2 separate regions of the Homo sapiens genome follow, and region 2 is linked to region 1. The links come from fine-mapping of genetic effects on gene expression. A gene starts in region 1. The other region holds a variant in brackets. All regions are shown on one strand. Distances are from middle to middle. Region 1 holds the start of UBA2 (ubiquitin like modifier activating enzyme 2). Region 2 holds the start of HPN (hepsin).

Region 1 (16,179 bases):
TTCTCCTGCCTCAGCCTCCCAAGTAGCTGGGATTACAGGTGCACACCACCACGCCCGCTGATTTTTGTATTTTTAGTAGAGACAGGGTTTCACCATGTTGGACAGGCTGGTCTCAAAATCCTGACCTCAGGTGATCCGCTCGCTTCGGGTTCCCAAAAAGTGCTGGGATTACAGGCATGAGCCATCACGCCTGGCTTTTTTTTTTTGAGATGGAGTCTCACTCTGTTGCCCAGGCTGGAGTGTGGTGCCATCTTGGCTCACTGTAACCTCCACCTCCGAGGTTCAAGCAATTCTCATGCTTCAGTCTCCCAACTAGCTGGGATTACAGGTACACGCCTCCACACCCAGCTAATTTTTGTATTTTTTGTAGAGACGTGGTTTCACTACATTGGAGAGGCTGGTCTCGAACTCCTGACCTCAAGTCATCTGCCTACCTCAGCCTCCCAAAGTGCTGGGATTACAGGCATGAGCCACTGCACGCAGCCGACACAAAGAAATTTTTGATGCCTGGTATATCATGCTTACCACTCTAAGGATTTTAATACAAAAGTCAAATGAAACAAAATGGCAGAGCTGAAAGATTTCCTTGCCCATAGTCTTTTGAGCACGTTTATAGCATTTTAAGTTTGTTTTTTGAGACAGAGGCTTGATCTGTAGCCCAGGCTGGAGGGCAGTGGTGCAATCTCAGCTTACTGCAACCTCTGCCTCTCAGGTTCAAGTGATTCGCCTGGCTCAGCCTCCCAAGTAGCTGGGATTACAGGCGCCGGCCACCATGTCCAGCTAATTTTTGTATTTTTAGTAGAGATGGGGTTTCACCATGCTTGCCAGGCTGGTCTCAAACTCCTGACCTCAGGTGATCCGCCCACCTCGGCCTCCCGAAGTGCTGGGATTACAGGTATGAGCCACTGCACCTGGCCCCGCATTTTAAGTTTTATATAAGCATAAAAGTCCTTACATTTTGGATGTTCACCTGTTCATTTTATATAAATACAAAGTTTATTTCCTCCTGCTCCAAGGTCTCAAATAAATATTTGGGAAGTTAAAAAAATAAAACTTTTCTTTACCTTTTTGATAGTAGTTACTTGTCCAAGATACCCAGCTGTTCCACTTTCAATAAGAGGAACATCAGCTGCCAGGCACATTCTATTAACATGGTTTCGGGCAGCTGGAAGTAAAACAAACAGTATGAGTTTTTGGGAAAAAAAAAATTAGTTATCTTTAATTAGGATGACACAGACTCAAAACTATCTTACTGGCTTCATTTTTTGTACAATTTTCTTATAGCTATGGCCAGAATAATACAACTGTTAATTACAGACATTTAAGAGACATTCACTTAGCAAAATATCAAATAGAATTTATATCACAAATTTACTCCAGGAGAAGTACCCACAGAAACACATAATCTTAAAAATCCAACGTGCCATATTTCTCTTCTATTGCTGTACCTTACACAAAACACTGTTTCAAGGTGTTCCTAAACTCACCACTATTCTAATATAACTAGCAGATAATACATGATAGAAATGAAGGCAGAATGTGGAATATCAACTTGGAACTATTAAAGTAGTTTAAGGCTAGGGAAAAAAGATGAGTCAGGTTAAGAGAGTAATTTCACGCCAGGAGCACTGGCTCATGCCCATAATCTCAGCATTCTGGGAGGCTGAGGTGGGAGGACTGCTTGAAGCCAGGAGTTCGAGGCCAGCCTGGGCAACAAAGCAAGACTTCATCCCTACAAAAATAAACATAAAAAAATTAGCCGGGTATGGTGGTACCTGTCTGCAGAGTAGCTACTGCAGAGGTTGAGGTAAGAGTATCACCTGAGCCCATTTGAAGGCTTCAGTGAGTTATGATCACACCAGTGCACTCTAGTCTGGGCAACAGTGAGACCCCCCAAGCCTTAAAAAATAAACGTAATTTTGACTTTTCCTTGTGTTTTTTATTTAGATATTTCTGGCCCAACTTGTTGTAAACTCACTTAGTAGATATACTTTTACATGTGGAAGTAATTACAGACAAAGAATATCACTCAAGCATCCCCCACCCCACCCTCCAGTCACACTTTTTCTTTTTTTGAGACAGGGTCGCACTCTGTCACCAAGGCTGGAGTGTAGTGGTGTGATCTAGGCTCACTGCAACCTCTGCCTCCTGGCTTCAAGCGATTCTCCCACCTCAGCCTCCGGAGAAGCTGGGACTACAGGCACATGCCACCACACCGGCTAATTTTTGTGTTTTTTGGTAGAGACGGTTTCACCATGTTGACTAGGTTGGTCTCGAACTCCTGACCTCAAGTGATCCTCCTGCCTTGGTCTCTCAAAGTGCTGGGATTACAGGCGTGAGCCACTGTGCTGAGCCACAGTCACACTTTTTGAGAGCTTTTCACTTCACTTCTATTTATACCTTTTGGTAGAAATGCAGAGAATATGATAGCTAAATTCCCGCCTGGAATAAGTCATTTCTATATAAAACTGCAATCAATGGGCATGCTTTAAACTCGATCATTTCTCTTAAGTCTTTTAAGTTCTAAATCACAATAGTCTAATAAATATTAAATTTGTAAACAAATTTGATATGGGAGAGAGGAAATACTGAGAAATTAAAAGTATTAAAATAACCTCACCTCTGTTATCTAAAGCATTCATAACCAGTATAAACTGTCGGAAAAATTCCACATTATAGTCAGGGCTACAAAACAAAATAAAAAAAGGTCACCAAAATAACTAGCCTTCCACATGATCTTTGCAGTATAATAAACAGTTCTGAAAAAAACATAGTAACTGTAAACAAAACTGATATCAGGATTATATGTCATATAGATAGTAAGGTTTGACTCTTTCCAAACATAAGCAGATTTTAAAGAAATTATTTCCTTCAAATTCCTATCCTTTTTGGCCAGCTAGGGCACAAGAGAAAGATCTCAAACTGGCAGAAAGATGGCATGACTTCACTAGTCCCACTAGGCCTTCTTTGGGCAGCAAGTGCCTGGGAACGCATAAAGAACACATTCCCAGGATCTGCCTGGCCTCTGACTTCACCTCACATGATCAGGATCAGGCAGGGTTCAGGCCCCTAGGGTCTCTGTTTTTAGCAGCACTGGGAAAGCAACACAGGGTAAGGAGGTTATAGGGCTACAGGCAGGTTCACAGAGTAAAAAACTAAAAAACAAGCCGGAGATACAGGCCGGGTGCAGTGGCTCACGCCTGTAATCCCTGCACTTTGGGAGGCCAAGGCGGGTGGATCACCTGAGGTCGGGAGTTTGAGACCAGCCTGGCCAACATGATGAAACCCCGCCTACTAAAATACAAAAATTAGCTGAGTGTGGTGGCGTGCGCCTGTAATCCCAACTACTCAGGAGGCTGAGACAGGAGAATCGCTTGAACCCAGGAGGCGGAGGTTGCAGTGAGCCAAGATCATGCCACTGTACTCCAGCCTGGGCAATAAGCGCAAAACCCTATCTCACACACAAAAAAAACACAATCCGGAGATACAAATGCCCTGAGAAAGTGTTAAGTACCTCAATTCCAGTACCTCAAACAAGGACTATTTTTAACACTATTTACTTGCAAGCTAAACCACCATAGATAAAGGACAATTTCGGCCCACAGTTCCTTTGCTCCAACTCCTCCAAAATTATATATTTACTCTATCTTTACTGAGATAAATATATTTATGTACTGTCAATACTACTGCCCTACCACAATTCCAAGTGTTATATTACAGAAGTCAGAGTCATACTACAGATTATTTTGGGAGGGAAACTTTTAAACAAAAAAAGGCAAACACTTTAGAAAAGTCTGAATCATCATAAATAAGGATATTTCATAGTTTAAAATATCTTCTTACTTAAGGCAAGCATATAAGGTCTTTATAAATTTCCAAGTAACTTATTTATTAAAAGTATTAAACTATCTCACCATTCTAAATCATTCAAACCATGTATTTATGAACTGGTAAAAAGAATGCCACTCTGTAAGCAGAAACCACCACTGTTTAATAATTCTAGAAAAATCATTTTTTTTAAAAAAGCTGAATGACTTTGAGCTTATATATTTGGCTTACAAAACCCTTATACAACTTTGCAATGTAATCACTATAGCATACTTCATGATGCTGTCATGGTAGGCAACGATATTAGCTTTCGGGTAAAACTGCAGTACACTTTCCTTGGCAACCTGGAAAAATAAACAACACTGAATTACTACAATATTTCTGTTCCTATCTGAAATCTGCTTCTGGAAGCCACAATGCTGTTATCTACTTACATAGTACCTTATTTATATTAAACACCAAAGAAGTCCAAAAATGTGAGAAAATTGCATTAGGGTTAAGCTACACTTATAAAATTATACTTTTATACTTATAAAATAACCGGAGAGCCCCCCCTGACCCACGTACCACCAAACACACTTCTACATGAATGGCAAGCTTCAGCAAAAATACAACATGAAGTAACCAAGTGTCATTCATTCATTCACTTAACAAGTATTTACTGAGCATCTTGCATGTACCAGGAACTATACAACGTACATGTCAAGCAAGAGAGACATTAATCAAATAACAATCCAGATTAAGTTCAACTACAGACTCTGATAAATGCCATGAGAATGACAGGAAAAGGCCAGGCATGGTGGCTCATGCCTGTAATCCCAGCACTTGGGAGGCCAGTGTAGGAGGATCCCTTGAGGCCAGGAGTTCTAGGCTGCAGTAAGCCATGACCGCATCACTCCACTCCAGCCTGGGGCGACAGAGTGAGACCCTATCTCTAAAAAAAAAAAAAAAAAAAAAAAAGAAAAGAAAATGATAGGAAAAGTAAAGTAAAGGTTGTTATGAGAGAAAAACCAACCTGACTTAGTCTAAAAGGTTTAGGAAAGTACTCCTGGAGGAGGAAGCCAAAATATGAAAGAAAAAGAGAAACAAGTGGGGGTTTGCCAAACAGGTTGGGAGACAGGCAAAGGGAAAAGATGTTTTAAGACTCTGAATCACCAAGGAACACTAAAAAAACTAAACAAAGATCGGGGGAACTGTCTTGTTTCAACTAGGACAGCAGCATAACGCTCCTCTAGCCCCCAAACATAGCAGTAGTCAACCTCTAGGGGGTGTAGGAACACAAGGTGCATCCTAAGCAAAGCATCAGAAACTTAAATATAAAGAGGCCATGAAAGTTACACCATCACGGGATTATTTCCTTTTTAGAACAAAAAAGGAGGGCTTAATCTTTAGTCCTTTACTTGATATATCTTTATCCTTCACAATCTCTCAGCTGAAATGAGAGCTTCACCCATTTTTTCCCTCCTATATGACAGGCAGGATTAATCTGGTATCACAAATAGAAGCTCCATCAAGTTATAGAAATGGTATGAGAAATATAGTTACCTGTGCCTTTGATCTTCCAACATGTTTCTTTTGAAACAAAAACTGTCTGTTGAGGTTGCTTACATCAATAGTATCCAGATCAATCTACAAATGCATAAACCCCAGATAAATGACAAACGTTTACGTATGTTTGAGCTGTATCACTACTCTCAGCACCTGTAATCCAGAACTTTTGATATCTGCTACATTAGTGGAGAAAGCGTTTTTCGAATCGCCATACCAAAATTGTTAAACTGATAAAGAATAATTTAATGCATGTAAGAATCTAGATTTAATGTCAGAGATAAACTTCTCAAAAATACTTTGAAAGAATGGTATATTTTGTTTGTTTAATCATCCTGGAAAATATTTCAGGAAACTCCCTGGATGCCATAAAAATATGTGAATTCATTAAAACTATATGTGCTGTCGAGGTAAACACTAACTGAAAATATATTAACATATTTCTCTACACCGGGAGTGGTGGCTCATACCTGTAATCCCAACACTTTGGGAGGACAAAGTGAGAGAATCGCTTGAGCCCAGACCTTCAAGACCAGCCTAAGCAAAATAGTGAGACCCTGGTGGCTACAAGAAATAGAAAAAATAAAATTAGGTGGCACATGCCTGTAGTCACAGCTACTCGGGAGGCTGAGGTGGAGGATCACTGGAGCCTGGGAGGCGGAGGTTGCAGTGAGCCGAGATCGGGCCACTGCACTCTAGCCAGGGTGACAGGGCCAGACCCTGTCTCAAAAAATACTAAAGTATTTCTCTTTCAATCGAATTACTCTTTCAAGTACAAAATATTAAATTTAACTATGCCCTGTTCTTTTTCTTTGTTTTTTGAGACAGGGTCTCCCTCTGTTGCCCAGGCTGGAGTGCAGTGGTGCAAACACAGCTCACTGCAGCCTCGACCTCCCAGGCTCAAGCGATCCTCCTGACACAGCCTCCCGGGTAGCTGGGACCACAGGCGCACACCACCACGCCCCGCTAATTTTCTTTTTTTGTAGAGACGGGGTTTCTCTATGTTGCCCAGGTTCTGTTCTTTTTCTTAAATGATACATGGCAAACGTTTATTGAATTTTTGCTGCCTCCCTTAATTCAAGCCTTCATCCATACACAATTTCATTTACTATTAACCTGAGAACTGTGAAAGGAAACTTTTACACATGGTTAAAAAAGTATCATGTTTTAAGTTTTATCTAATTTTTGCTTAAATATATAATACATAAAGGAAAGAAACAATGACTCAGTCGGCCACCCGTACTTTTTTGTTCATTCCATGTTTCCACTAGCCCTTAAGACACTTTAAACTCACACCGAAGGGCCAGTAACATCTCCAATCTCTAAAAAGTTTGCATTAGTAGAAATAACGATTCAAAATAGCACTGGCTTGTCAACGTACACCAATGCAAAAGGCACAGTCCTAACGTCTTTAATGAAACAAGCGAGTGTACCGTCTACTGTGAGAGCAATGACAGTCACGCAGCCTGCGGGAGCCCTGCCACTCGCTCCGTGACCCAGGGTAAGTTACTCAACCCCATTGCGTCTCCCTTTCCTCATCTGTTAAAAATAAAGCAGGGTGGAAATAGCGTTTGCACTCCTCGGGTGGTATGAAGATGGTGCGCGTTCCGTGTGTAAACCCGCTCGTGACCAGCGCTCGGGACGCGTTGGTCGCTATCATTGCCATCCTCCGCCCCGCGTCGTTACTTCGGAGTTACGACAGGGACCTCAAAATTAAAGTCACAACATCCGCGAGGGACTCAATCCTCTCCCGCATCTCCTAACAGCCGGGAATTTGTTTTGAAGGGAGGATAAGAGGCGGCTTCACGCCCACGAAGCGCCACACATTGGCGCTGCCGGGGAGGCGGGGGCCCGCGGCCTCCTCGGCGTCCGGAGCCGGCCCAGCGAGCGGAGGCCCGCCCCGTGCCCAAAGAACAGTCTCCTCCCGCGGGGGGGGCACAACCCGAGCCTCTCAGCCTGCCCCCGCTCCGCAACTCCGGTCCCGGGCTCCGGGCCCTGAGCCTCAGAGCCCCTGGAGCCCCGGAACCCCCGAATCCCAGCCCCCGCACCACAGCCCGCCATTCACGCGCGCGCGCCCGGCCCTCACCAGGTCGATGTGGGAGAAACCGGTGAGCACGAGATTCTTGAGGAGCTCGCAGCCGATGCCGCCCGCCCCCACCACCAGCACCCGGCCCCCGGCCACCGCCTCAGCCAGCTCCCGGGGCAGCCCCCGCGACAGTGCCATGGCGGGACAACCACGAGCCGCGGCGGAGGCGGAGGCGGGAGAACCGAGCCGCGGCCGGAAGCGGGTGGGGGAAGGGCGGCCTGGTTTCCGCTCCTGCGCACTACAGCCTCCGGCAGACACAGGCAGGGCACATCGCGCCGGGGTGTGCTGCAGCCCGCGGGGACCGGCAGGCTCTTGCAAAGGGCTGGCGACCTCCAGCTGAGACCGGCGGTGTTATTCCCACACCAGCATAGGCCCGCCATCAGACCTAAAAAGTCTAAGGGTCGCCTTCTAGCCTGGGGTTTCAACTCCCAGCCAAGACTTCCTTACAGGTTAGAAAACTGATGTCCCTATACGTAAAGAGCTCTTACAAATTAACAAGTGTCACCCCCAAAAAAATATAGGCAAAGGATGTGAACAGGAAACTCACAAAAAATTGGACAATATGATCAATAAGCGTATTAAAATGTAAACCATAAAAGAATCGCTTGAACCCTGGAGGTGGAGGTTGCAGTGAACCAAGATCGCACCACTTCACTCCAGGCTGGGTAACAGAGCAAGACTCCGTCTCAAAAAAGAAAAAAATGTAAACCATGCAAAATGGTAAGATTTTCACCTGCCGGGCGCGGTGGCTTACGCCTGTAATCCCAGCACTTTGGGAGGCCGAGGCGGGTGGATCACGAGGTCAGGAGTTCTGAAACCAGCCTGACTAACATGGTGAAACCCCCATCTCTACTAAAAATACAAAAATTAGCCGGGCGTGGTGGCGTGCGCCTGTAATCCCAGCTACTCGGGAGGCTGAGGCAGGAGAATCGTTTGAACCCAGGAGGCAGAGGTTGCAGTGAGCCGAGATCGCGCCACTGCACTCCAGCCTGGGCAACAGACTCCGTCTCAAAAAAACAAACAAACAAACAAACAAAAAAAAACACCGAAACAGCTGGGGGTGGTGGCACAAGCCTGTAGCCCCAGCTACTCAGGAGGCTGAGGCAGGAGAATTGCTTGAACCCAGGAGGCGGAGGTTGCACCACTGCACTCCAGCCTGAGCAATACAGCGAGACTCTGTCTCAAAAAAAAAAAAAAGTTTTTCACCTACTAAACTGGTAGAAAGAAAAAATAAGTAACACTTATCAAGGGATTGGGAAACAAGCACTCCAACACACTCCAGGTAAAGATTCCAAAGCAAAGCTTCTCTAGAGGGCGTGGTGGCTTGCACCTGTAGTCCCAGCTACTCAGGAGGCTGAGGCAGGAGGATCACTTAAGCCTGAGAGGTCGAGGCTGCAGTGAGCTATGCCCTTACCACTGCACTCCAGCCTGAGAGACAGAGCAAGACCCTGTCTCGAAAAAAAAGAAAAAAAAACCCTAAAATTGTGCACAACTTTTGACTCATTCATTCCAATTCTAGGAAACTGTCCTGTAGCAGTTATCATTGATTTAAAATATATATAAATTTAGTTACAGGGATGGCCATCATGGGAATAAAAATTGGAAAATACAAGTGGCTAAAAATTGTATAAAGCTTTTGATGTATATTTAAAAAATAGAGCAATTATAAATTATGTTGTGGGAAAAATATTAATGGGAAAATGCTCCAAATATAATGTTAAATGCAAGAAACAAGCCCACCCCATGATCACCTAGGCCTCATTATCCTCATCTACGTAGGCAGAGCATGTCTGAACATGGCTGGGAGTGTTTTTATACTGCTGTTATGGGGCTGAAGGGAAGGGGTTGATCATGTTAAAAATAAAGAAAGGGGAAGACTGGAAGGCAGCTGGATAAAGGGACAGTCTCCAGAACGGAGTAAAGACCCCTTCCTGGGATACTGCAGGAGCAGAAGATGGGAGTGGGTGAGGGCGGGGACCTGGGCTGATGAACATGGGCAGGTCTAAACAGCCAGGGTCACAGAGCAAAAACCTCCAGCAGCTAGAGCAGGTTCAGTGGCTTGATCAGGTGCCAGAAACAGCATAGGAAGCACTGGAGTGCACGTGTCAGAGGTGTACACAAGAGGCTGACCACTGCTCTTGGCTCTTTCGCTGCTCTCCTCCCCCCTAGAATGCCCACCAGAACGGCTGTGCAGACAACACCAGCCCTCTGGACTAGAGAGGAGCTACCTTCCTAGCTGCCACTGTGACAGCTGGCCCTGGACCCTGGAAGGGCAGACCAACCCACAGTCAGGAGGTCCTGGCCCGGCCCCGGCCCCGGCACCAGCACCCAAAGGCAAAAAGGCAACTCAGAAAAACAGAGGTTAATAACTTGTGAGTTAAAATAAGGTACATACAAACATATTTGGATGTAAACATTTGTTTTAATTTATATTAATAAAAGGAAATGCTCTACTTAAACAATAATTCATCTGGGTCTTCTTGTATAATACAAAATTCTTCCATGGGAGTCTGATGATTTGGGGGCCAGCAACTCTTCTCACATGTGTAAACTAGAATTGTTCCAAATTCCACAGAAAGACCTGAAAAATACCACATATTCAGGCTTCCAGCAAAAAGAGTTATGAGACTGATGTTACTAAAAGGAATGATTTTACCTTATAAGCTGAAAAAGTAATTAGGTAAAGCAAAAACAGTGCTTACTGCTTTCAGCTATAACAGAATCACAGTCTATCCTATAATAAGTGAATATTGATAACAAAAAAGCAAAATTAATTTAAAGTGGCAGGAAAATATACTTTAAAAATAAACAAAAATTTCAGCAAGTGTTCATTATAACTGTCTAGCTATCTGATGTTGAAAATCTATATTAATCTACATGGTTCATGTGATATACATAGCTTTTGGCTAGGTGCGGTGGCTCACAACTGTGATCCCTGCACTTTGGGAGGCCGACGGGGAAGGACAGCTTGAGCCCAGCCTAGGCAACATAGTGAGACACCTGTCTCTACAAAAAACAAAACAAACAAACAAACAAACAAAATATATATATATCTCATATAGCCTGGGCAACACAGTGAGACTTTACTAAAAAAAAAAAAATTCACTGGGTGTAACGGTGCACACCTGTAGTCCCAGCTACTCAGAGGAGACTAAGGCAGAAGGATCACTTGAGCCCAGGAGATAAAGGCTGCAATAAGCTATGATTGCACCACCGTACTCTGGCCCGGGTGATAGAGCGAGACCCTGTCTTAAAAAAAAAAAAAAAAAGAAGAGAGAAATATATATCATAGGACACACTACTGCCGAGAAAGGATAAGGATTCAGGCAAAAAATATAAAATAAACCCTAAGAGTTTACAGAAAATTATCAATGAATAAAGCCATTAAAAAAAGATACCAAGAAAACATAAGCAATAAGAACTCCTGATATTAGAACAGAAAAGCAGGAGTCAAGAGGATGACGTAGGCAATGATTTGCAGCAGCAAAGGAGAAATACATTGTTTAAAAATGTATGCATTGGCTGGGCACAGCACATTGGCTCATGCTTGTAATCCCAGCACATTGGGAGGCTGTGGTATATGGATCACCTGAGGTCAGGAGTTCAAGACCAGCCTGGCCAACATGGTGAAACCCCGTCTCTACTAACAATACAAAAAATTAGCTGGGCGTGGTGGTAGGCACCTGTAATCCCAGCTACTTGGGAGGCTGAGGCAGGAGAATTGCTTGAACCTGGGAGGCACAGGTTGCAGTGAGAAGAGATTGTGCCACTGCACTCCAGCCTGGGCAACAGAGTGAGACTCTGTCTCAAAAAAAAAAAAAAAAATGAAAAAATGGCAGAGTTTAACTGGTATATGACATTCCTCTAGGAGCATCTGACTGGTAAGGGAAAAGCGCCTCAAGTGAGCAAGTCTACAACTCCAGTAAACACACTGCGCATGCGGCCTCTCCCAAGTGCTGGAGGGCCACTATGCATGTGGACAGCCCACCCCAAGGGAAGAAACAAGAGAAGTAACCCAAGACCCAGGAAGTATAAAACCCCAAGTCAAAGGTCAAATGGACACTTGAATCTCTCAGGTTGCCTGCTTGGCCCTCTTCCAACTATATTTACTTCCTTTCGTTCTTGCTCTAAAACTTTTTAGTAAGTTTTCACTCCTGCTCTAAAATTTGCTTCGGTCTCTCCTCTGTCTTATGTGCCTCGGTCAAATTCTTTCTTCGGAGGAGGCAAGAACTGAGGTTGCTACAGACCCCTACAGATTCACCGCTGCTAACAGTATTGTGGCAAAAATGTTAGTCACAAAGGGGGAAAAAATCAGACCACCCTCATACCTCTACAAAGCTACATTCCATGCAAAAGACATTTCTATATGAGTGAAAAATCTCAGAGACTAGAATGCCCATAAGCCCTTCCAGAAAAATATATTTCCCAGTGAGACTGAACCACCAAGAAATGACAGGAGGCACCAGGGCAAAGGGCTGGCAGGGCTTTCACTGTCAGAAGACAACACAGGGGTCTATACAAGGTTCTGAAAAGAGAAAGTGGGATTTAAAAATTTTATACATGGGTTGCCCCTCAAATATGAAGCCACATTACCATGCACAATCTGAAGCAAGATACCTCTGAGCCCTCCTTAAAGCTATTACTTGAGAAAATCCAGCTACTGCAAAAAGAATCAAAATAAAACAGGAATAAAAAAGCTCACTCTAAGAGTGGTGATAAACACTGAATCCATTTACACATAGAACTAAGGCTATCCAAATAGCTGTGATAATTATGATACTGGCCAGGCGCGGTGGCTCATGCCTGTAAATCCCAGCACTTTGGGAGGTCGAGGTGGACGGATCACTTGAGGTCAGGAGTTCAAGACCAGCCAACATGGCGAAACCCCGTCTCTATTAAAAATACAACATTAGCAGGGCGTGGTGGTGGGCGCCTGTAATCCCAGCTACTCAAGAGGCTGAGGCAGGAGAATCGCTTGAACCTGGGAGGCAGAGGTTGCAATGAGCCGAGATAGTGCCACTGTACTCCAGGCTGGGCGACAGAGTGAGGCTCCATCTCAAAAAAAAAAAAAAAAAAAAAGATACTGGGTCCAGGCACGGTGGCTCATGCCTATAATCCAAGCACTTTGGGATGCCGAGGCAGGTCGGGAGCTTGAGGTCAGGAGTTTGAGACCAGCCTGGCCAACAACAGTGAAACCTGTTTCTACCAAAAATATAAAAAATTAGCTGGGTGTGGTGGTGGGCACCTGTAATCCCAGCTACTCAGGAGGCTGAGGCAGGAGAATCACTTGAACCTGGGAGGCAGAGGTTGCAGTGAGCCGAGATAGCACCATTGCACTCCAACCTGGGTGAAACTCCGTCTCAAAAAACAAAAAAGATACTGAAATATTTCAAGGTAGGAATAGGGTATAAATTTCCTTATCTACTATGGTAAGGAGCCAGATGCATACTATCTAAAACTGAAACACAGAAAGAATGTTATTTTCTGTTAATAGCAGAAGCACCTTTCAGAAACTTGGGCCTCTTAGGTAAAGAACCTATTACCAAAAGTCCAGGCCAGGCGTGGCAGCTCACGCCTGTAATCCCAGCACTTTGGGAGGCTGAGGTGGGCGGATCACAAGGTCAGGAGATCAACACCATCCTGGCTAACACAGTGAAACCCCGTCTCTACTAAAAATACAAAAAAAAATTAGCTGGGCTTGGTTGCGGGCGCCTGTAGTCCCAGCTCCTTGGGAGGCTGAGGCAGGAGAATGGCATGAACCCGGGAGGCGGAGCTTGCAGTGAGCTGAGATTATGCCACTGCACTCCAGCCTGGGCGACAGAGCAAGACTCCGTCTCAAGAAAAAAGAAGGAAAAAAAAAAAAATCCAGTAACTGCTTCACTTATACTTAACATTCCTTCTGTTAATTTGTACAAAAATTTGTTCTAAGACTTTTAATTACCATATTAGTGAATTTTCCTATTTTAGGAAAATTATTTTCGTCTAGCCATCCATACATTCATCTGACTTGCTATTTGTCTTTATGTCAAAAATGATTGTTGGAATAATGGTTATTAACATTGATAATAGTTTTAATTTCTGGCCAGGCATGGTTCATGCTTGTAATCACTTTGGGAGGCCAAGGCGGGAGGATCGCTTGAGTCTAGGAGTTCGAGACCAGCCTGGGCAACATGACGCAACCTTGTCTCTACAAAAAATACAAAAATTCCATCCTGGCCAACACAGTGAAACCCTATCACTACTAAAAATACAAAAACTAGCCGGGCGTGGTGGCGGGCACCTGTAATCCCAGCTACTAGGGAGGCTGAGGGAGGGGAATTGCTAGACCCCGGGAGCTGGAGGTTGCAGTGAGCCAAGAACGTGCCACTGCACTCCAGCCTGGGCGACAGAGAGAGACTCCATCTCAATAAATAAATCAATCAATAAATATTAAAAAAAAAAAAAAAAGACTGGCTGGATTATAAATTTCTTTTTTTTTTTTTGAGACAGAGTCTCCTCACTCTGTCGCCAGGCTGGAGTAGAGTGGTGCGATCTTGGCTCACTGCAACCTCTACCTCCTGGGTTCAAGCGATTCCCTGCCTCAACCTCCCAAGGAGCTGGGACTACAGGCACGTGCCACCACGCCCAGCTAATTTTTTATATTATAGTAGAGACAGGGTTTCACCACATTGGCCAGGATGGCCTCGATCTCCTGACCTTGTGATCCACCCGCCTTGGCCTCCCAAAGTGCTGGGATTACAGGCATGAGCCACCACACCTGGCCTAAATTTCTTAAAATAATTTTTTAATTCCCAAATTTTCTGTAATTTGCTTATGATATTTTATAAGTAAACAAAAGGTTTTTCATTTATTTAAAAATAATGCCAGAAATCCACAAACTCAAATTAATAAAGGGCTTCTCACCTAAATTAGCACTCTTGAGCATGCTGACCAGTGCTGGCATAAGCTGAAACTCAAATATCCTTTGGCCTCCACACTGGCTGCAGGCTGGGAGCTCGGTGACTTCTGATGTAGGGCAGGTCAAAAAGAGTGGCTCTCCACTCCAGGAATACCTAGGACAAGGAAACAAAGAACCCCGAATCAGAGCCACACAAGTCGCATTCTAGCATCTAAGGCCATGCTTTGCAACCTTTCTTTGTTTCTTGCAGAAATCTCCCAGAGGCCCAAAAACCTAGCACCATGGCTGTAAAGCATAGCAAGATATCTGGAAATCTTGTCAGTGTTCGATTCAAAGTCTCAAAGGCACTAAAGTCAATGTTCAACTGAATCTAGGTAAAGCTGCAACAAAGTCCAGACTCAGCTCCACTGCAGATTAAATGGAATCAGCCCTCCACATCACTGGCCTTACAGAGGAAAGGGCATGCCTTAGAGAAGAAGTCCCCAACCCCCAGGCCATGGACCCCCAGGCCATGGACCAGTACTGGTTGGTAGCCTATTAGGAATAGGGCCATGCAGCAGGAGGTGAGCAACAGCCAAGCGAGCATTACCACCTGATCTCCACCTCCCGTCGTATCAGCAGCATTAGATTCTCATAGGAGCGCAAATCCTATTGTGAACTGCACATGCAAGGGATCTAGGTTGTGTGCTCCTTCTGAGAATCTAAAGCCTTATGATCTGAGGTGAACAGTTTCATCCCAAAACCATGCCCCACATCCCCCACCTCAGTCTGTGAAAAAATTGCCTTCCATGAACCAGTCCCTGATGCCAAAAAGGTTGGGGACCTCTGCCTTAGAGGGAGGAAACATTCACTTCAGTTTTTGGGTTTTTTTTTTTTTTTTTTAGATAAAGCCTTTTTCTGTTGCCCAGGCTGGAGTGCAGTGGCACAATCACAGCTCACTGCAGCCTTGACCCCCTGGGCTCAAGCAATCCTCTTACCTCAGCCTCCTGAGTAGCTGGGAACACAGAGGCGCATCACCATACCCAGCTAGTTTTTAAAAAAAAAATTTGTAGAGACAGGGTCTTGCTATAATGCCCAGACTGGTCTCAAACTCCTGGCCTCAAGTGATCCTCCCACCTCAGCCTCCCAAAGTGCTGTGATTACAGGTGTGAGCCACCACATCCAGCTCACTTCAATATTACTGTTGTTCGATATGTAATTTCTGGTAAATCATTTTAAAAGTTACTAAACATGCAAAGAAGCAGGAAAATTTACCCCATAAAGAAAGTTAATGCAAGGAGACCCATGGACAAGATGATAAATTTATCAGACAAAAACTTTAAAATACCAGTAATGAATATGTAAAAAAAAAAAACCAAAAAAAAAACCTAGTGGACAAGGTAGGCCGGGTACCGTGGCTCAGGCCTGTAATCTCAGCACTTTGGGAGGCTGAGGCGGGTGAATCACTCGAGGACAGGAGTTCGAGATCAGCTTGGCCAACATGGTGAAACCCCATCTCCACTAAAACTACAAAAATTAGCCGGGCGTAGTGGCAGGTGCCTGTAATCCCAGCTGTGGGGGAGGCTGAGGCCGCGGCTGCAGAATCGCTTAAACCTGGGAGGCAGAGGTTGCAGTGAACTGAGATTGCTCCACTGCACTCCAGCCTGGATGATAGAGCAAGACTCTGTCTCGAATAATAATAATAATACAAAAATTAGCCAGACATAGTGTAATAATACAAAAATTAGCCAGACATAGTGGTGCACGCCTGTGGTCCCAGCTACTTTGGAGAGTGTGGCAGGAGGATCACTTGAGCTCAGGAGTCTGAGGCTGCGGTGAG
Region 2 (16,179 bases), 620 kb before region 1:
TGTTCAAGTATATAATATATTGTTATTAACTATAATCACCATGTTGTTCAATATATCTCTTGAACTTATTTTTCCTGTCTAATGGAAATTTTGAATTATTTGTCCAACAAGACATTTATATCTTTAAATTAAATAATATTTAATCATTTTGGTATAAATACTTCTCATTTCTTAAACTTACCCTTCTATGTTTTATGAAAAATAACTTTAATAATATAGTATAAATACATATCAATTTTTAATATCGGAATTCATTTCCCATCTGATAACTTTTTTTTTTTTTTTGAGACAGAGTCTCGCTCTGTCACCCAGGCTGGAATGCACTGGTGCAACCTTGGGTCACTGTAACCTCCGCCTCCCGGATTCAAGCCATTGTCCTGCCTCAGCCTCCCGAGTAGCTGGAGCTACAGACACATGCCACCACACTTGGCTAATTTTTTGTATTTTTAGTAGACACGGGGTTTCACCATGTTGGCCAGGCTGGTCTCGAACTCCTGACCTCAAGTGATCTGCCTGTCTTGGCCTCCCAAAGTGCTGGATGACAGGCGTGAGCTACTGCACCTGGCCCCCATCTGATAACATTTTAAAGCCCCTTGATACAGCCAGGTTTGAAGAACCTCTGTGACTGTCGGTTAAGTGAGTTAGTAAATCATATCCCCTTTTGTTTTTAGCCAGTTTATTTTTTCTTTTTGTCTTTTGTAGGCTGAAAACCTTTGACTAATACACCAGACTGCCAATCTTGACTATTGCCAGATTGATAATCAATATCCTATAGTCAGAAAGAAAAGAAGAGGGAAAGAAGGAAAGAAAGAAAGAAAACAATAATGCTCTTTTATGCAGGACTTGTCAGAGCCTTGGATATGCTAAAGTGCGTAATTCTCCAGGCAGAGGATGGAGTATTCATTCATTCACTCAGCAAGCGTTAACTGGACACATACTCCATGCCCAGTGAGGGGTGATCCTGGAGACACAGATGGCCGAGACAGTCCTGGGCTTTGCTTTCGGCAAACCACATTATAGGGGATAGGGAGACAGATGGCCATAAAATGTCACCCAGCCAAACACATCATTACAAATTGTGACATGAGGCAGGGCTGGGATATACGAGAAGGCTAGAGGGAGCTCCCGGGAGACTGTTCATGTCTGGGGCTGGTTGGGGGGCAATTTGTGGTGAGAACAGATGTCCCCTGAAACCCCTCAGTCTGTTCCCCACACACCTCAGAGGAACCTGTTAACACCTAAGTCAGGTCACAGACCCTGGGGTATTGATTTCTATTTACCAAACACTTTGTACCTGCCAGGCTCTATTTTAGGCAGTGAACAAATCACCACTGCAATGAACAAATCAGACAAAAACCCCGACCCCTGTGGAACTCAAAGCTCAGTAGGTGAGACAAATCAAGAAAGGGACAAATAAGTAGGATATATTATGTGTCACAAGATAGGAAGGGGCCACAGAGAAAAATAAAATGCCACCGAGGGAGGGGAGTGCCGGCATGGAGGGTGGGGTGAGGTTGCACTTTTCAGTCGCTGCAAGGAGAGCGTCCCTGGGAAGGTGGTGCAAGAACAAAGACCTGCAGGAGGTGAGAAAGTGTCAGGAGGTGTGTGAGATCAGCACGGAGACAGAGGGACTTGCAGATGCAAAGATCCCAAGGCTGGTGTGGGGGACTGGGGGGAGTGCTCCAGGAACAGTGGGAGGCCAGAGCAGAGTGAGCCAGGGAGGGGCAGATCAGGTGGGAGCTAGAAATAGAGCAACATCAGGGCTTTGCTGGCACCTGGTGTGAGGTGCAGCCAGGGGAGGGCCCTGACCTGACTCAGGTGGTCACCAGCTCCCTCTGGCTGCAAGTGGGGAACCAGCATGAGCCACTGTACCTGGCCCCCATCTGATAACATTTTAAAGCCTCTTGAGGCAGCCAGGTTTTAAGACCCTCCAGAATTGCCGGTTAAGTGAGTGAGTCATATCCCCTTTGTGGGATATGATTGGGGGGCAGGGATGGGAGCAGGGAGGCCAGGGAGGAGGCTCTGGGATGTCCAGAGGGGAGGGGAAGGGGGCTGGAGCAGGGTGGGGGCAGTGGACGGGGAGAAGAGTTCAGATTTTGGAGAGGTTCTGTAGGTGCAGCTGACAGGGTTTCCTGCAAGATCTGATTCATGGGTGACTGGAGGAACTGGGAGGGTAACCGAGGGGTTTGGCCTGAGCCTGAAAAGATGGGGCTGACAGAGATGGGGACGGAAGGAGCAGGTTCAGGGAGAGATCAGCTGTGAACCTCTTTGTCCTTTCCTTTCCTTCTCCCTGCCACTTTTTTTTTTCTTTTTTGAGACAGGGTCTCGCTCCACCACCCAGGCTGGAGTGCAGTGGCACGATCATAGCTCATTGCAGCCTCAACCTCCTGGGCTCAAACGATCCTCCCGCCTCAACCTCCCAAGTAGCTAGGACCACAGGGGCATACCACCACACCCTGCTAATTTGTTTATTTTTTTATGTTAGGATAAAGCTGAGTGACAATAGCCAGGTTAGAACCCAGCAAAGCCTGAGCTAAAAACGCCTTTTAAATTTATTTTTTTCTGTAGAGACAGGGTATTGCTATATTGTCCAGGCTGATCTCAAACTCCTGGCCTCAAGCAATCCTCCCACCTTGGCCTCCCAAAGTGCTGGGATGGCAGGTGTGAGCCACCATGTCTTTTTGTCCTTTTCTCAAGAGCCTCCTGCCTGGCCTGGGCTCTGAGAGCACATTCTGGGAAACCGAGTCAAATGAAAACTTGCTTTTGCATCCTCTTAGAAGGAACCTGGTGAGGCCACACACCAGCTGAGGGGTCTTCCCACAGCCCCGCAGGTTGGGACAAGGAGAAGCAAGACTTCCAAGTAGAACTCTCCCCAGCTGAGGACCTACTGTGTTCCTGGGGCTAGGCTACCTCTGCCCCACCATCAACCAAGGCCTCGTCGCACACCCCAGGAGCCACGAAGATCATCCCCAAATTCCAGACGGGGAAGCTGAGGCTCAGAGAGGTGGGGTGGCTTCCCCAACGTCACCAAATGCACGAGAAGCAGGGAGAGAGGATTCGAAATCAGGTCTGAGTGACTTCAAACCCCAAGCTTTTAACATTGCCCTGGACAGCCTCTCAAGAGACTTCCCCTCTGGAGGGTTAAACAACAGCACAGTAATAATAGCACTGGCTACGTTTACTGGGGGGTGTCAGTGGGCTGGCCCCATGCTATGCATCCTATCCAAGTGGCTCTCTGAATCCCACAACCATCCTCGGAGATAGTGACCACTTCGGTTTTTTTTTTTTTTTTTGAGACATAATCTTGCTCTGTTGCTCAGGCTGGAGTGCAGTGGCATGATCTCGGCTCACTGCAACCTCTGCCTCCCAGGTTCAAGCGATCCTCCTGCCTCAGCCTCCCGAGTAGCTGGGATTACAGGCACATGCTACTACACCTGGCTAACTTTTGTGTTCTTAGTAGAAACAGCGTTTCACCATGTTGGCCAGGCTGGTCTCAAACTTCTGGCCTCAGGTGATCCACCTGCCTTGGCCTCCCCAAGTGCTGGGATTACAGGCGTGAGCCACTGTGCCCAGCCAGTAGTGACCACTTCTATGCCCATCTTACAGATGGGAAAACTAAGCCTCAGAGGAATAAACTTGCCCAGAGGCACACGGCTAACCAGCAAAACCGGGACTTGAACCCAGACCAGCATATTCCCTGTTCCTTCTGTGGGTCTCATACAAACCCTTGCCTGTCTCCCTGCCTAATATATTCAGCTACGGCTGGCACTGAAAAGCCACCTGGCTGGCCTGCCTTAATGATGGCCTCCTGCTCTGGGGTTGGGGCAGGGAACGCCTGGCACCTCTGGCTGTGGGGTCCTCATCACCCCATGAATTCCAAGGCCAAGTCTCAGGGTTTGAAACACCAACTGGGGCGGGGAGGGGGGCGGATTCTTATTTTATTTTATTCTATTTTAAGTTTGTTTTGAGATGGAGTCTTGCTCTGTCTCCCAGGCTAGAGTGCAGTGGCACGATCTCAGCTCACTGCAACCTCTGCCTCCTGAGTTCAAGCGATTCTCATGCCTCAGCCTCCCAAATAGCTGGGATTACAGGCACCAGCCACCACGCCCGGCTAATTTTTGTATTTTTAGTAGAGATGGGGTTTTGCCATGTTGGCCAGGCTGGTCTCCTGACCTCAAGTGATCTGCCCATTTGGGCCTCCCAAAGTGCTGGGATTACAGGCGTGAGCCACCGCACCGGCCTGGCCTGCCTTAATTACGGTCTCCTGCTCTGGGGTTGGGGCAGGGAATGCCTGGCACCTCTAGCTGGGGGGTCCTCATCACCCCATGAAAGCCAAGGCTTGGAGTTTGAAACACCAGCTGGGGCAGGAAGAGGGGTGGATTCTTATTTTAAAATGACTGTTAACTGCTCTGGAAATGTGATTTCCAGAAAGTGTGAGGTTTTAGGGGGGAAAATCACTTTATAGATGTGTGTTGGGGGAGATGGGAGTGGGGAGAGAACATCAAATGTCCCCTCTGGCTATTTTTAAAGTCACACTCTCTGCTGCTGTTTCTCACTTTTAAATTCTTTATTCTTGTTCCTATCATTTCAGGCAACACAAAAAGGATGTTCTGGGTCACCTGGTGTGCCTGCCAAGTTGTTGGATATATTTAGAAGTGTGAAAATCCCAGGAAAAAAAAAGCGAGGTGGGGATACAAGCTTGGGGTTGTTTTTGTTTGTTTGTTTGTTTCATCATTTCCCTGAGTTGTTGAAAAACCCAAATACCTCTGCAGGGTGGCGGCGTGGTGCTGGCCAGAGCCGGGTGTGAGTGGTGGCCTCGCTCCTTTCCAGCTGGAGGCCCATGACTCTCTAGTTCATCCCAGTGTTTTGGCTTTGGGTGCACTCATAACTCAAGGATTTCCTGAGAACCTACTATGTGCCAGGCACCGTCTGACCACAAAAGGTCCCTGCCTTCCTGGAGTTCGCCAGGAGTAAATAATTCACAATGAGTGAGGAGGGTTTTACCGGGGTGGCAGGGACACACCATAGGGTGAGAGGCCATAGAGTCTGGAAGTCCAGGAAGATCTTGCTCAAGAAATTTCAAGAAAGAATTTCAGGAGTGAGATACAAAAGCCAATGTCCACTGTGCTGGCTAAGAGGCAAGTACTGCACAGCCTTTTTTTTTTTTTTTTTTTTTGAGACAGACTCTTGCTCTGTCACCCAGGCTGGAGTGCAGTGGCGTGATCTCAGTTCACTGCAACCTGCAACCCGCGCCTCCCAGGTTCAAACAGTTCTCCTGCCTCAGCCTCCTGAGTAGCTGGGATTACAGGCGCCCGCCACCACGCCTGGCCAATTTTTGTGTTTTTAGTACAGATGAGGTTTCACCACGTTGGCCAGGCTGGTCTCGAACTCCTGACCTCAGGTGATCTGCCTGCCTCGGCCTCCCAAAGTGCTGGGATTACAGGGGTGAGCCACCGCACCCCGCCCAAGTACTACACAGATTTTTATCTCCTCTTATTCCCACTGATTCTTCTTACCCCCATCTCACAGATGAGGAAATTGAGTCTTGGAGAGAGTAGGGACTGGTGGGAGGCCCCACAGCTCAGAAGGAACTGTGCAGAACTGAAATCTGCCTCTGGGTGTGAGCTAGAAAGAAGTGGGTGAGTAGAGACTTCTGTGTGAGCAGGTCATTTGAGCAAGGGACTGGGCCCTGAGGGTGCTAGAAGCCAGTGTGAGGTGGGGGTGGAGAGGGGCCTCCACACTAGGAGGCTTGGAGCCTGTGATGGGTTGGGATTTTATCTCAATGCCACGTGTTGTCACGGAGGGGCTTTTGACAGGGGCGTGATCCCTTCGCTCTGTCTCTGATGTGTGGTCAGCCTCGGGCAAGTCAGTTTGCTTCACTGGGACTCAATTTCCCCCAAATGCAAAATGTTGGGATGTAACAGCCCTAACTTCATAGGCCTGCTGGGTAAAGGCTGCCGCCAGGGCCTGGCATATGTCAGTCTTTACTATGGCAATGAATTCAGCTGTTCTTTTTTTTTTTTTTTAACAAGCAATCAAGTGTAGACACTATATACAGTTACTACGCAGGCTGCCTGGGTTCAAATCCCAGCCCTGACACTGACTAGCTCCATGACCTGGGGCAAGTCACTCAGCCTTTCTGTGCCTCAGCATCCCCATAGGAAAATGGGTTGTGGTGGTGCACACCTGTAATCCCTGCACTTTGGGAGGCTGATCTGAGAGGACTGCTTTGAGCTCAGGAGTTCAAGATCAGACTGGGCAATGTAGCAAGATCCCATCTCTACTAAAAATTTAAAAAATGAGGTTGGGTGTGGTGGCTCATGCCTGTAGTCCCAGCACTTTGGGAGGCCGAGACGGGTGGATCACCTGAGGTCAGGAGTTTGAGACCATCCTGGCCAACATGGTGAAACCCCGCCTCTACTAAAAATACAAAAATTAGCTGGGTGTGGTGGCACGTGCCTGTAGTCCTAGCTACTCAGGAGGCTGAGGCAGGAGAATCACTTGAACCTGGGAGATGGAGATTGCAGTGAGCCAAGATCGCGCCACAGCACTCCTGCCTGGGCGACACAGCGAGACTCTGGCTCAAAAAGATAAAAATAACAATAATTTGTTATTGACAAAATAATTTTGTGTAGGCATGGTGGCATTAGCCTATAGTCCCAGCTACTCAGAAGGCTGAGATGGGAGGATTGCTTGAGCCCAGGAGATGTAGGTTACAATGAGCTAAGATCGTGTCACTGCACTCCAGCCTGGGCGACAGAGCAAGACCCCATCTCAAAAAAAAAAAAAAAAAAAAGAAAGAAAGAAAGAAAGAAAAAAAAAAGAAAAGAAAAACAACAGGTTGTTGGGAAGACTTAATGAGTTGATATCATAAGGTCCCAAGGCCTTGGCTGGTGCATACAAATGCTAAGTGCTGGTAATGATGATTAATGTTGATGTTGGCTTTTCTTGTCTGGATTTTCATTTCTGATTTTAGTGTGAACTGAATCCTTTATGGAATTAGATGAGGCTCACAGACATGAAAAATACATCCCACCACCCAACTTCCCCTTTTTTCCTGCTGTCCTGCATCAGGGAATGGCAGCTTGAAGTTGGCATTTGGGAAGATTCATTCATTCATCCCACAGTTAGTTTCTTTATCTATTTATTTGTGTGGCCATTCATTCCACATGCCTGCAGACACACTTACAGTGGATAAGTCTAAGAGCTGTTCCTGGCCCCTCGTTCCCCAGCTGCATGTCCTCTCTGGTCCTCATTTTGCACATCTGTAAAATGGAGCTAATTACCAGGGACAGGCGCAGTGGCTCATGCCTGTAATCCCAGCACTTTGGGAGGCCGAGGCGGGTGGATCACAAGGTCAGGAGATAGAGACCGTCCTGGCCAACATGGTGAAATCTCATCTCTACTAAAAATACAAAAAATTAACTGGGCATGGTGGCACACGCCTGTATTCCCAGGTACTTGGGAGGCTGAAGCAGGAGAATCGCTTGAACCTGGGAGGCAGAGGTTGCGGTGAGCTGAGACTGCACCATTGCACTCTAGCCTGGGTGACAGAGCAAGACTTTTTTCTTTTTTAAAACAAACAAACAAAAAAACTACCTCCTAGGAGAGTTAGAAGGGTCCACTGAATTTATATCATGCCTCCCCAACATGTTTTCACCATGCCACGCAGTAAGAAACACATTTTTACATCCTGATGTAGCCCATAGCTCTGTAGTCTGGGGCAAACTGCTGCATTGCTCAAAGCCTCAGTTTCCCCATCTGTAAAACAGGGAGAATAACAGTCCCACCCTCAGAGTGTGGGGATGCAGTGGGATTACATGTATATGGATGCAAAAAAAAAAAAAAACAAACAAAAATTAGCATAACCTTTACTTACTGAGAGATGTACTGTGATAGTCTGTAATCGAATCTATTTCATACTTAAAAAAAAAACATGGTTTTCCAACTCACTAATTTAATTTTATGAGGCACTCATGAGTAATACACTGGTGTCTGAAAAAGTCTGGGTTAGACATGTGGGGTGCTTAGAATAGTGCCTGGTACATAGCAGGCACTCAATACAAATGCACTATTATGATTAGCATTTCTGCATGCATTTGTGCATTTATTCAACAAATACGCTTGTTGAGCTCCCGCCAGATACACGTGTCCTCCAGGGCTCCCCCAGAGGGTCCCAGCCTGCTCCACTCACCTGGGTACAGCGGCTCCTGGTCACTCCTGAGGAGAACAGCCACTGCAGAGAAGGGAGGGGTGAGGGCAGGCAGGCTGGAGGCTGCAGGGGCCAGGGGAGGTCAGAGGCACAGGAACCGCTCTCACCAATGGCCCAGGATGCCGCCCCGATGGCTGTCAGAAGTAGCAGGGTCCCCGCAGTGAGAGCTGCCACCTTGGGTCTGGAGCAGCATGGCACAGTCCGGCCACCTGCAACAGACACCATGCTGGGGCCACAGCCAGGCCTGTCCTCATTGCGGCAGGGTCTGGGCCCGAGGCCAGCTCTGCCCTGCCCCCAGGGCTAACTTATTATGCCCAAGCATGTCCTCCCCAGGCCCAGTTTCCCGGGGCCAGCAGTTGACAGGGCTGTTCCTCCCCTGCCGTGTGAACAACCAGGTGCCCAGCTCCCCCAGGGTTCCAGCTGGGAGGGGGGCATGGCCGGGCCACCTGCCACGGTCTCCACCTCCGCCCTGCACTTTCCTGGCACTTAGGGAATGTCTCCTCCCCAGTGACACTGTGCTTTTGTATTTCTGTCTTTGCTTTGGGCCATCTCTTCTTGGGACTGTGACCCCCAACCTTTGCCCTCTTGGTAGCTCTCTTCCCTGCCGCTGGCATTTCCTCGCTGCCTCAGTCGTTTCTGCTGTTCTAGATGCTTTGCCCCTAGATACCCCCTAAATCAGACCTCTCTCATGGTACCCAGTTGCAAGATCAAATTTGCCCCTCCACTTGAAAATCTGCCAGCCTCATTTTATTTTATGTATTAATTTTTTTAGCGACGTGGTCTTGCTATGTTGCCCAGGCTGGTCTCAAACTCCTGGGCTGAAGCGATCTTCCTTCCTCAGCCTCCCAAAATGCTGAGATTACAGGAGTGAGCCACTGCGTCTGGCCAGCCTCATTTAAAAATATTGACCCTACCCCTTCCTAGCTGGAACCTAAGGCAGGTGCCATCATATCTTTGAGCCTCAACTTTCTTATCTATTAAATGGGCATCCACTGAGCACCTACTTCTAAAAATAATAATTTAAAGTTATTTTCAAGAAGAAGAAGAATAGCTCAAATTGTATTGATGCCTCCAGGTGCTAAGCACCGTTCTAAATACATCAGCTCATTTAGTCCTTATTTCAATCCCACAACTATGATTCCTGTTTTTGAGATAGCTCAGAGAAGTGGGGTCACGTGCCCACAGTGACAGCCTGGAAGAGGCAGAGCAGCGTCCAGAACCCTGGGCAGGTTTGATGCCAGGTCCCCTGTGTACAGCCACGAAGCCATCCTGGCTCTCACTGTGCGGAAGTGCCTGGCACATAGCAAGTTCTCTATAAATGCTTTATAAATCATCAGAGATGTGTGGGCCTGAGCAACTCCCCTCCCCTCTCTGAGCCTCAGCCTCAGTTTTTTTCTTTTCCTTCCTTCCTTCCTTTTCTTTCTTTCTTTCTTTCTTTCTTTCTTTCTTTCTTTCTTTCTTTCTTTCTTTTTCTCTCTCTCTCTCTTTCTTTTTCTTTTTTTTTTTTTTGAGACAGGGTTTCACTGTGCTGCCCAGGCTGGAGTGCAGCGGCGCGATCATGGCACACTGCAGTCTCAAGCGCTCAGGCTCAGGTAATTCTGAGCCTCCCGAGTAGCTGGGATTATAGGCGCACACCACCACACATGGCTAATTTTTGTATTTTTTGTATTGACGGGGTTTGCCATGTTGACCAGGCTGGTCGTGAACTCCCAGACTCAAGTTATCTGCTTGTCTCAGCCTCCCAAACAAAGTGTTGGAATTGCAGGCGTGAGCCACCGCGCCTGACCCTCAGTTTTTTCATCAGCCTAAAGAAGCTTTATTTGTTTACCATCCTACTGAACATCCGCTGTGTGCCTGGCACCTTTCTAGGTTCCGGGAACATAACCCAAAGAAGACAGATAAGGTTACGACTCTCAGGGGTTCACGTTCTCATGCGTGTAGGTGGGGAGTGGGAGACATTAACAAGGAAACAAGTAAATGAACCCAATAATTTCCAGATTGTGGCAGAGGCTGTGAAGAAAACCGTGCAGGCTGGGGCAGCAGGTGGGCTTCTGCAGGGGATCAGGGATCACAGGGCCTCCCCTAGAGGAGACTTCTGAGCTAAGCTCTGAAAGGTGAGGTGCCAGCCACACACAGACCACAAGGAAGGGCACTGTGGGCAGAGGGAACAGCACAGGCAAAGGCCTTGAGGCAAGAATAAGCAGGCTCTCTTATGTCAGAGGCTGGAGAGGCCATCGAGATGGCCAGATGGCCAGAGCTTGGGGAAGGTAGTGGGAACCAAGGCTGGGGCCAGCTGGGGAGGCCTGGTGGCACAGGAAAAGGGATTTTATTCCCAGGGCAAAGAGGTCCTGGAGATTAAAAGCCAACTCCTAGCCGGGCTCGGTGGCTCACGCCTGTAATCCCAGCACTTTGGGAGGCCGAGGTGGGCAGATCACGAGGTCAGGAGATCGAGACCATCCTGGCTAACACGGTGAAACCCCGTCTCTACTAAGAATACAAAAAATTAGCCGGGCGCAGTGGCAGGCACCTGTAATCCCAGCTACTCGGGAGGCTGAGGCAGGAGAATGGCTTGAACCCGGGAGGCAGAGCTTGCAGTGAGCCGAGATCGCGCCACTGCACTTCAGCTTGGGCGACAGAGCGAGACTCTGTCTCAAAAAATAAATAAATAAATAAATACATAAATAAATAAAAGCCAACCCCTTCACTAGGGATTATAAGAAGGCCAAAGAGTAAAGGCTGCTGAAAGCCTTCAGCTGGGCCTGGCTTGGGTTCAACTGCCCTTGGCAGCCGCAAAGCACCCCAAGGTGGCAGGAGCTCCCAGCTCGCCCATCTGCACCCATGGTGATGTGGCTGGTGAACCCGGCACCAGGCCAGCACCTGGAACAGAGCAGGGAGTGGTCTAGGACCTTCCTGGTGTGGCCATTATCTGGGTGTCTTAAGAATTTGAGAGCTCAGGCTGGGCATGGTGGCTCATGCCTGTAATCCCGGTCCTTTGGGAGGCTGAGGCAGGTGGATCACTTGAGGTCAGGAGCTCAAGACCAGCCTGGCCAACATGGTGAAACCCCGCCTCTACTAAAAATACAAAAATTAGCTGGGTGTGGTGGCGGGCGCCTATAGTCCCAGCTACTCGGGAAGCTGAGGCAGGAGAATCGCTTGAACCCGGGAGGTGGAGGTTGCAGTGAATCAAGATTGCGCCACTGTACTCTAGCCTGGGCAACAGAGCGAGACTCTGTATTAAAAAAAAAAAAAAATTGAAAGCTCAGTGGCTCCCATCAAGGCATGAGGAAACACTCTCTTCCCCAAAAGAGGCCCCAGTGGGCCAGACCAGCCCAACTACTGCCGGCTGACCCCTGCCTGTCCTGCGAGGGGTTCTCAGGCCTGCCCCCCAACTCTGCCCAGGACCACTCTCCAGGTTCCAGCAGGAGGTCTTGGCTCCCGACAGCCACTGGGCTGGTCTTGCTTGCTTTGTTTTCAGCTGTGCCTGCCAGGGCTCTAGGCCATGCAGAATGCAGCCTAGAGGCCTTGGCACATCTGGTGGGACAGGAAGCAATGCCACTATGTATGTGTCTCCTAGGGTGAGAGGAAGAACCTCCTTCCATGCTGTGTGGTTCAGAGGACTTCAGCGCCTCCAGTGGGACAGGAAGCATCTGCATCCTGGGGTTCCCCCAGTATGAGAGGCATCCTCCCTGCATGTCTCTACTGGGACAGGCAGCATCCTCATCTGGCCCACGGTGTGGGACGCATCCTCATCCTCCCTGCGTGTCTCTACTGGGACAGGCAGCATCCTCATCTGGCCCA[G/C]GGTGTGGGACGCATCCTCATCCTCCCTGCGTGTCTCTACTGGGACAGGCGGCACGTCAACATCAATTCTTTGATCCCAGCAGCAGGGCTATTTCCCTTGGTAAGCCAGACCTCCCCCACCCCTACATCTCCCTGAGACTCTCTGCCCCTGCTTCTCCAGGCCCCTCTGGATGCCTTGGGTCTTCTCATAGGTCAGTTCTTCCGCCTCCACCATTTGGCTGCAAAGACCCCCACGCGTAACACCTTTGGCTCTCTGGCTCTGAAAATCCACTCAACTGGTGGCTCCGTGTCTCGGGCCTCATCTTACATGACTGCAGCTTCCTGTATAAATGCTCTCCTCTTTGGACTTCTGGGACACCAGGCGCACCTGATTTTCCTTCCCGCCTCTGAGGCTGCTGTCTTCACCCACCCTCTACCTACTCCGTAAAATCCAGAGTTTGTAGGGCTGGCCGCAGCCTCCCCCTGCTCCTCCTTGCCCCTAAGTCTGTCTCACCCACCTCTGTGGACTCAGTTTCCCCTCTGTCCCCAGCCCTAGACCCTCTTCCAGGTCCCAGGTCAGGGCTCCTGCAGTCCTTTAAATACCTTTTAAATACCTTTCCCTGGGACCTCCTAGTCCCTTTGCCCCTACCAGGTCCCAGAATGTCTCCCCAATGTCTCCCCAAGTATATTCTTCCTCCCGGTCCTGTCTCAGAGGCCCTCACTCCTAGGACCATCCCCATCTGCATAACATTCCCCTCCCCCGACAGCCTGCCAATCCTCCTGAGTGACTCTCCTTCCCCCGTTTCCTTCTTTCTCTCCATCTGCACCTTGCTCCGGCCCCATCCAACCGCTGGGCTCAGTCTCCCTTCTAGCGCACCCTCCACACGGAGGCTTGGGGAACCTACTGAGACACCAAATCCAACCTGTCCCCTCTTTACCTATAGAACCCTCTGTGACTCCCTAGTACCCCCCAGACAGCTTAAGTCCCTCAGCCTGGCATTTCCAGCCCCACTAGGGTATAAGCATGGCTTTCAGAGATTTGGGAGTATGTTTCCCCCAATTCTCAGACAACCATGTGGGTCACTATCAGGTACCAGAGAGAGCTTCCAAAAAGCAACCCAAACAGTAGAACTTGTAAAATACAAGTTAGACAAGAGAAGCAGGGACTAACCACTGGCGCCACCTTGTGGAGAGACCTGGTACTGCAAGGAATTGGCCAGCTCTTCCCCAAAACAGTCCCACCCCTGCCTGGTCCAGCTTGCACACCTCTTCTCCCACCCAGCTCAACTTCCAGCTTCACCTCCAGAAATACCACAATTGGCTACGTGCACACCAGTGCTGTGTCACCTCCCAGCTTCCCAGAGAAGAGCAAGAGCCTTGCTCTTCCCTCTGCCTGGCATCCTTGGAATTGCAACTCCAGTATCACCTCCTCCAATTCCAAGTTTCCAGGCAGCACCAAGAAGCCAGCAGCAATAACAGTGACACCAACAACAGCAGCCGCTGCAGCCACAACGGCTCTCTGAATCACACACGGACGCACCGCCCTACCCTAACCCCGTCCAGTCCTGCACAGCATCCTTACTTAAATCCTTGCAGCTGTTCACGAGGAAGGCGCCATTGCCATCACCCCCAGTTTACAGATGAGAAAAGGAGGCCCAAAGTCCGGCAGCCACCAAACCCGGGTCACCCGGCAAGTAAGTGCAGAATCGGAACCCTTCAGCATCTGTGTCCAGGTTCGACCTCCACACCCCTAGCCCTGACAGCAGGACTCCCCTCCAAGACCAGCCCGGAGCTGCCAGGGAGGCACCAGAGCCCACTTTGTGTCTGTTTCTCTTTGTACCCAGGCCATCTCTGTCCATTCGGGCATTTTCTGCTTTTCTTCCCTGGCTCATTCACCCATGGGCCCAAGCCCTGGGGCTGTCCTTCCGGCAGCTCCAGGAAAGAGATTGTCCCCAAGGAGCTGGATTCTGTCATCCACCTGCTCGGCTAGGGTGCAATGCCTTCTCCTGAGTAACTGGGAGCCTGGGTTCCCTCTGGACTGCAGCTGATTGGTTTGGGGTCTGAATTGCCAGCTGTGCCGAGACCCGAGGAGGCCAGAGATCTGAACTAATCATTTCAGCCAACACGCTCAGTGCTTCCTGCCCATCCTGGCATTTCAGGCCTCGCCCCACGCTGTTGGACATGCACTGTCACCCTCTCCATTTCACAGATGAGAGAATGGAGGCCCAGGGAGAACACGCCGTCTGCCCAGGGCCACACAGCTAGAAAGTGCTACTGCCCAGGACTGAGCCCGGCTATCCTGGTTGCGGAAGAAGAGAGGGAGTCAGCCCCAGCTAGGGGAAGGCAGAAAGAACAGGACGCCCCTCCATGCGCCCCTCCAGCTGGGTCCCATGTGTGAGAGGTAGAAAGGAAGCCAGGCTAGCTGGGGGCTGCCCAGAGACTCCCAAGGGCCAGCAACTCCATGACGCAGTCTCTCTCTCTCATCCTTATGGTGGTTTCTCTGCCGTCTCTCCCCTCTCCATCCATCCAGGCCCAGTCCAAAGTCCTCCCTCTGCTCTTTTGCCCACAGAGCCAGGAGGTGGAGGAATGTCTGGGATCGGTGGGGGTCCTGGGTCTCTGGGACTCCGAGTTTGCCAACCTCTGTCATGACAGCTCTGCTTGATGGCATGCGTCTTATATGCAGAGCCCCAGACCAGTGCCTGGTGTGTGTCATGCACTCAGCAACCTCACAGAGGGAGGACTGGTATCCATGCTTGACCCAGAGGGAGACCAAAGCCCTAAGAATAATGTCACTTGCACCAGATCACACAGCAAAAAAGATGGCAAGAGCAAATTCAAATGCAAGCCTGTGTGTTTCACTCCAAATCTGTGTCCTTAACCATGACAGCTACAGCTTCCCCGCCTCAGCCCCAGCAGAGGACAAGTCCAGAGTTAGCTGAGAAATCACTGGGGGATGAGGGGAAACTGAGGCAGCACGCCAGGAAGGTCACATAGGGTAGAAGGGAGGCTGGTGGTGGCACAGCTGCACAGAAAATGTGGTTAATAGTTAATCAGGTGGAGGAGGACTAACAGGGGTGGGGATGCATCTGGGAGGGGTGCCCAGAGAGAGGGGGCTCCGAAGAGTAGAGGGTAGAGAAAAGAGCACAGAGGGCGGGGCGCCAGGCAGAGCCAAAGCTGGGGCTCAGGGAAGGGGACTCACCCTCCTTCTGCGCCATGTCACTGCCTCTTGTTAATGATTCCCTGGCTGACCTCCTGGGCCAGGGTGGGACCTGTGAGGAGATGGACGGGGAGGCAGGGCCTGGGGGAGCCCAGCCCAGCCCAGTCCTGGCGCCCCCAGTCCCAGGCGTCCATCCAGGCAGGCTGTAGGGACTGGGCCTTGGCCAGAGCACGCCGTGATCACGGACGCAGATTGGGCTGGGTTCAAGGATGGGGTCAGTGTCTGACCAGCAGCGGGGGGACGCCTGGATTTGCAGGGATGGGGACCCCCATGCCTGAGCCTGGTGGAGCAGGGGACTGAGGATCCCGGTTTGAGGGAGGAGACAGCTGAGGACCTGAAATCATAAGTCTTGGGAAAGGAGGAATTTGGGGGCCAGGACTCCCTAGTATGAGGGAGGAGGGGCCTGAGGGCTGGAACTCCTGGGTCTGGGGAGGAAAGGACTGGGGTCCAACGGCTGAGTCTGAAGGAAGAGCAGGACAGAACACCTAGGTGCTTGGGGGGACGTCATAGTGCCCCCTCTTCAGGTCCCCAGGAACCCCTCTATTAGGAGGTGGGCATTAGGCTGGGTGGGGGGATGAGGGAACCCCTGTCCTCAGGGCTGGAACTGTGAGTCTGGGGGCCCTTGTCCTTACCCTGGGGTCCAGCAGGTGGGGGCGGAGCCTCGAGGTAGTGCCGGGGTCGGGTCAGTCTCCAGGCCTGGGCAGGAGCATGGTGGCCCCGCAGCAGCGGGCGGCCTGGAGGCAGAGGCGGTGGCGTGGGGCCTGCTAGGCCAGGCTGCCTCACCTGAGGAGGAGGGGGCTGGGCGAGGGGCGGGTGAAGGGGCGGGGAGGGGCCGGACCATTCGATTGGCAGCACTGGAGGCCACCTGGCTGATGGGGCCGGGCTTGTGGGGGCTGGACCAGGCGGGCCCAGCTACGGGGCTTGCCTTGGACCTCCAGGGGGACCCAGGTGTGCCTGTCTGCGGGGATGTGGG

Evidence for each region.
Region 2: its variant is fine-mapped to the expression of UBA2 in whole blood (INTERVAL, PIP 0.98).

What each region holds. Positions count from the first base shown.
Region 1 is chr19:34,419,854-34,436,032 of GRCh38, reverse strand. UBA2 (ubiquitin like modifier activating enzyme 2) reads right to left here and starts at 7,652. Exons shown (of 17, transcript NM_005499.3): 1 at 7,463-7,652; 2 at 5,374-5,457; 3 at 4,102-4,172; 4 at 2,621-2,685; 5 at 1,065-1,165. The coding sequence starts at 7,600. PDCD2L (programmed cell death 2 like) reads right to left here. Exons shown (of 7, transcript NM_032346.2): 6 at 14,366-14,514; 7 at 9,865-10,043. The coding sequence ends at 9,913. LOC124904695 (a long non-coding RNA gene) reads left to right here and starts at 7,669. Exons shown (of 2, transcript XR_007067232.1): 1 at 7,669-7,911; 2 at 9,632-9,927. It also overlaps the pseudogene RN7SL154P. RefSeq lists silencers at 7,155-7,314, 7,385-7,494, 7,525-7,764.
Region 2 is chr19:35,041,532-35,057,710 of GRCh38, reverse strand. HPN (hepsin) reads right to left here and starts at 15,990. Exons shown (of 13, transcript NM_001384133.1): 1 at 15,839-15,990; 2 at 15,189-15,258; 3 at 8,320-8,421; 4 at 8,195-8,236. The coding sequence starts at 15,204. The variant G/C (reference allele first, on the strand shown) is at 12,011.